2 separate regions of the Homo sapiens genome follow, and region 2 is linked to region 1. Evidence: fine-mapped expression QTL. Tissue or cell type: whole blood. Region 1 holds a variant in brackets; the other region holds the start of a gene. All regions are shown on one strand. Distances are from middle to middle.

What was found. PIP is the estimated chance that this variant, and not a neighbour inherited with it, causes the effect.
Region 2: DLGAP4 starts here. The variant in region 1 is fine-mapped to the expression of DLGAP4 in whole blood (TOPMed, PIP 0.95).

Annotation. Positions count from the first base shown.
Region 1 is chr20:36,439,682-36,442,435 of GRCh38, reverse strand. DLGAP4 (DLG associated protein 4) reads right to left here. Exons shown (of 13, transcript NM_001365621.2): 5 at 2,568-2,682. Among named protein-coding and RNA genes, the nearest start is that of MYL9, 100 kb to the left of the region's middle. RefSeq lists a silencer at 764-961. The variant G/T (reference allele first, on the strand shown) is at 1,283.
Region 2 is chr20:36,305,207-36,307,706 of GRCh38, reverse strand. It overlaps DLGAP4 (DLG associated protein 4), which reads right to left and starts at 1,368. Exons shown (of 13, transcript NM_001365621.2): 1 at 1,195-1,368.

The sequences.
Region 1 (2,754 bases):
GATCACTTGAGGTTGGGAATTCGAGACCAGCCTGACCAATATGGAGAAACCCCATCTCTACTAAAAATACAAAATTAGCCGGGCATGGTGGCACATGCCTATAATCCCAGCTACTAGGGAGGCTGAGGCAGGAGAATTGCTTGAACCCGTGAGGCGGAGGTTGCAGTGAGCTGGGATCGCGCCATTGCACTCCAGCCTGGGCAACAAGAGCGAAACTCCATCTCAAAATAAATAAATAAATAAAAGTCCTTCTTTAGGTCTGGGCCCTGGGACCATGGATCCTCTGTCTGCTGCCTCTCATCTGGCAGGCAGCCCACCTGGAGATACAGATTAGGGATGGAGCCCAGAGCCTGCTCTTCCCCAGGCTAGAATATCTCTGACTTTGGGGCCAAATATATGGCTTGGGTCACTCAAACTTCTAGAGTTGAGGCTGTGAGGGGTCAGAGGATCCTGGACTAGGAGAGAACTGGGACTGGGCAGCGGGTGGTGGGTGAGACCTGCTGCGGCCCCCAGCCTGGCCGATTAATAAGCCTTTTTGTGTAGTTAAAGGACAAAGGTGTCCTGGGTGCCAGGCCCAGGCGGGGGTGGAGATGGGATGTGTAGAGAGACAGACAGACACAGAGAGAGACATGGAGATGGAGACACGCTGGAGAGAATCAGAGAAAAATGTGAATGAGGGGAGAGAGAACAGAGAGAGAGAAACAGACGGAGACAGACACAGACAGGAAGACTGAGACGAGAAAACGTGGTGGGATGGGAGAGACAGGGAGGGATGCCGTCCATTCAGCAAACACCTACTAAGCATCTGCCCTGTGCCAGGCACTGTGCCAGGTACTGGGGACACTGCAGGGAACAAGACAGCAAGGCCTCCGCTCCCAGGAGATCCTAGTTTTAAGAGGGAGACAGCATTAAGTAAATAAGCAAATGATTCTAGTTCCAGGCAGTGATAAGGTAAGGGAACAGCAGGGTAAGGGAACAGCGCCTGGGAAGGCTACTTTAGACAAGTGATCACAGGCAGCCTCTCTGAGGAAGTGACATTCGAGCAGAGACCTGAAACGCCAGGAGGAGCCAGCTGTGCAAAGATTTGAGAAGAGAGCCCCTGGAAGAGGAAACAGCAAATGCAGAGGGCCTGGAGCAGAATGACATGGCACACTCGTATATAAGGAGCAGAAAGGAGGCCGGCATGGCTGGAGCAGGGCAAGGGACAGGATCCAACAGGGAGGCAGGGCCTAGGTCTTACAGGGCTTCACAGGTCCAGGTAAGGACTCTGGCTTTCCCTCAG[G/T]GGGAGGTGGGAGCCAAGGGAGGGTCTGGAGCAGGGGTGTGGCTCTGACAGCTCCCTCTGGCCACTGAGTATGGATTGGAGGACGGCTGTTCAGGTGTGACTTGGTGGAGTCTGGATGAGGGGGGCAGGGGCAGGGGGCTCCCTGGGCTGCGGCACTCTACCCCTCCCCATGTCTGAGGGGCTGGGGAAGGAGCTTGGCTAGGCCAGGAATAATGGAGTTGTGAGGAGTCGGGGTCCCAAAGCCTTCTAAGCAGTCCTCTAGCCGTGGTCCTGGGCCTGCACACAGTGGCCTGTTCCTGCTGAGAGGAGGCTGGACCCGCACCTGGCCGCCCCACTGCCTAACTGCTACTACCAGTAGGTGTCTGCCTTCTCGGGGGGCTCATCTCCCCATCCACACGATGGGGGGTGCCTTTTAGTCCTGCCTGGTTCTCCCTTTGCAAACCCTAAAGTGCCGAGTACACGGCAGGAGCTGAGGTCCAGGTCTGGGCTGGACAGCCCCAGATCCCTGCCCAACTTTGTCTTCTCCTAGCTGCATGATGACTTCACCTCTCTGAGCCTCAGTTGCCTCACCTATGAAATGGGGATATGGATAACAAGGCCACCTCTGGGGGTGGTTAAGGGCTCAAGGAGCTGATGGTTGAGAGGGTGGCATGCAAATTCAACGTTCAGCCCAGTATGCTCCTCACTGACACAGGCAGGGCTGGCTGCGCCTGGGAGCACAACTGCCCACTGAGTAGGTGGCACAGAGGTTCAAAGTGAGCAGTCACTTGCTGGAGGTCACAAAAGATGCTAATAATAACCAGGAAGGCAGCTACCCTCTGCTGAGCACACCGCCTTCACGATCCCACTTATTCCTCTCAACAGCCCCCAGATAGAAATGCTCACCCTCCTCTGGTAAATCAGGAAACCGAGGTTCAGGGAGGGGAGGTGACTATCCTGGGTTCATACTGTCAAGTGACAAAACTGGGACTCGAACCTAGGTCTCCAGTTCCTTATCCTCATGGTTCTGAACCCAATGAGAAGTGACAGGCGCCCCGCTGGCAGCCTGTGTTTACAGTGGTGGTGTGGGGTCCTGGGTCAGGCCCCGTAACTGTGCTCTCCAGCCACAGGACAGTTGGTGGGGCAGAGACACACACAGGAGGCTTCAGGAACAAGGACCAAACAGAAGCACAGTGCAGACATCTGGGGGCCACTCAGCATGGGCTGGGCCTGGGCGTGTGTCCTCCTCCCAGATGGGAATCAGTACCCAAGCCCCCTGACTCTCCAGCCTCCCTGCCACCCTCACCTGGCTGATGCAGCTGGAGTCGTTGAGGCTGTCGCTGACGGGGGTGTAGTCCTCTTCCCAGCTCGGACACTTGGAGGGCAGCAGCATGTCCACTGAATCCAGGCGGTCCAGACTCCTGGTGGGGAGTGGGGAGCAGACAGGGCTCAGCCCACCCATTGTTCACCCAGCTTTTGGAGGCCTTGACCAT
Region 2 (2,500 bases), 130 kb after region 1:
CGGGGGCTGGAACTGCAGCCCCCTCCCGCTATGTCATTTCCACTTCCAGGCAGGTGGGGGTGCCAGGAACCCTCTCCCCATCAGCGCTGCCCTCCAAGCTTAGGGCTTCCCATTCTCAGGGCACCTCCTCTACCCACCGCTCCCGGCACAACTGGCCTTTGCCAATCACAACCCCTCCCCCATTTCATTTTTTCCCACATCAACAGTCTCTGACAGCCCCTCTCTGCAACACAGGCAGCGGAGGAAGAAGGGGAGAAGGGCCGGAGGGATGGAGGGATGGAGGGATGGAGGGATGAAGGGATGGAGGGGGATCGGAGCGGCAGGTTCGGCCAAAAGAGACCAAGGGCCATTACACGTCCAGGTAGCACCTGTCCCCTTCCAGCAGGCCCAGCACATCTGGACCCAGCTGGTCCCCGCGGCCACCTGGTCCATCCGCCACCAGCTCTGAACGCGAACCCCTGTCTCCGCGGGGCGCCGCACGTGGGGGCCTCCGGTAGCCATGTGAGTGCCCCCCCAGCCCAGGTGCCCGGGTCAGCCCAGCCCCTCCCAGGGACGCAAACAGGGAGGGGGCGCTATGCAGCGCGGGAGGGGGGTGCTGCCCCCGCCCCCTCCCCAGATGCCAGGTCAGGGAAAGAGCTCGGGAAGGGGGGAGCCGGCGGCTCCCGGGTCTACCGAGACGGGATCCGAGGCAGCTGGGTTGAATGGAGGAATGCCCGGGCCGGCATAGCCCTGCTCTCCCAAGCGCCAAGGTTGGCCGGGCACGGGAGGGGTCCGCCTGACCCCCAGGCCGCCCTGCGGATTAGGGGGCGGGCCTGAGGAGGGGGCTTCCAGGCTTTGGCAGCCGCTTGATATGGGGTACGGGGGAGTCCGCGGGAAAAAGAGCCGGAATGGGGATCCGGTCCCGGACAGGGGTTCCGGGCCCCGGTGCCGCCGCCCCCGATTTGAGGGTCCGGGGAGACATGGATGGGGCGATCCCAACCGGAGAAGGCGCTTCCCAGCCGCACAGCCGGCCCCTCGGACCCGGGATCGGAAGACAGAACTGGCAGGGGAGGGGGCTTTTCTGCGCCAGCGCCGTCCCCCGGTTCAGGGAGGTCTGTCGGGGAGGAGACCAGATCGGGGGGTCTAGCCGAGGGACGGAGCGCGCCGGCCCGGGAAGGGGGTAGGAGCCGCCGCGCGCCACCCCCGCGCCCTCACCTGCGCCGGGCGCCTCGGCCGCCTCCGGCCCGCTCTGCCGTTCCGCTGCGCCGCCGCCGCCTCTCGGGTCCGCTCGCAGGTCCGCGCGCCTAGGCCCCGGCCCCCGCCCCGGCTCCGGCCCGCGGGCGCCCCATGCCTCTCCTCCGGCCGGCGCGGCGCCCCAGATGCGGCTGCGGGAGGAGGAGCCGTGCGGCCCCGGCTCCCCGAGAGCGGCGGGGAGGGGGCGGGGAGAGGGGAGAGGAGCGCGGGGGAGGGGGCCGTGCGGCTGCGCCCAAAACCAGGCGCGGATCGGGCCGCGGGCGCGGGGCTGGGGGGGCCTTGGGGGGGCCCGCGCCGTTCCTGGCGCCCCACCCCCACCCACGCCCCCGCAACCCGGGGGAAGGGGGAGGGTCTCCGCAGCGGGCGACCGCTCTGTCGCGATCCGGAAGAGCGCTTGGAAATCCGGGGCCGCCAGTCCAGAGAGGGCAGGCTACTGGAACAAGGTCACACAGCGCGGGCCGCGGTGGCACGGGAGCCTGGAACCCCAGGCTACGGGGCGGGCCGGCAGGAACCTGTGTTGACCATCGCCGCCCCGTGGAGGAGGGAAACTGAGGCCCAGAGAGAACGAGACTGGCCCGGGTCACACCGCGCCAGTCAGGAACCACCCCACCCCCGAGAACTTGGGGCTCCTGCCTCTAGGAATGGGTGCCCCCTCCCGGTGACCTGCTTCCGCAGAACCCTCTCCCAGGTGTCTTCTAGCCTCTGGCTGAACGGGGGTTAAATGCAGTCTCTGGAGTGGGATGAACCTGAACTGCGTACCAGCCCTGCCTCTCCTGGCTCTGTGGTTACAGACAAAAGACTGTCCCTCTCTGAGCCCCATTCCTCCACCTGTAAAATGGGGACACCACGAGTCTCTATCCCCAACTTGGGTGAGAAACCAAAGAGATCATGGGTATGAGCTCTTTACCGGTGCCTGGCATTCAGTAGGTGTCAAATGAATGTGCCTGCCTTCTCTGGCTCCCACACACAGCCATCTCCAGAGAATGCCTCTGAATGCAGAAGGGTCAGAATGGCGTGAAAGGGTGGCCTGCAAGGCTCCTCACAGCCCTGTTCCAGTCTCCTCCACCACCCACCCACCCTGCTCACATCCCCAACCCAGTGATGACTGTTTCAGTGCCCAGCCTCTGCCTTTCCCTGTGCCTGCCATGCCCTCCCACCTCTCTACCTGACAAACTCCTACTCATCCATCAAGGCCCAGAGCAATCTGTTTCGTACCCCAGCTTCTCACACTCCCTACTAGTCTACCCATATTTCCTTTCTCCAGAAC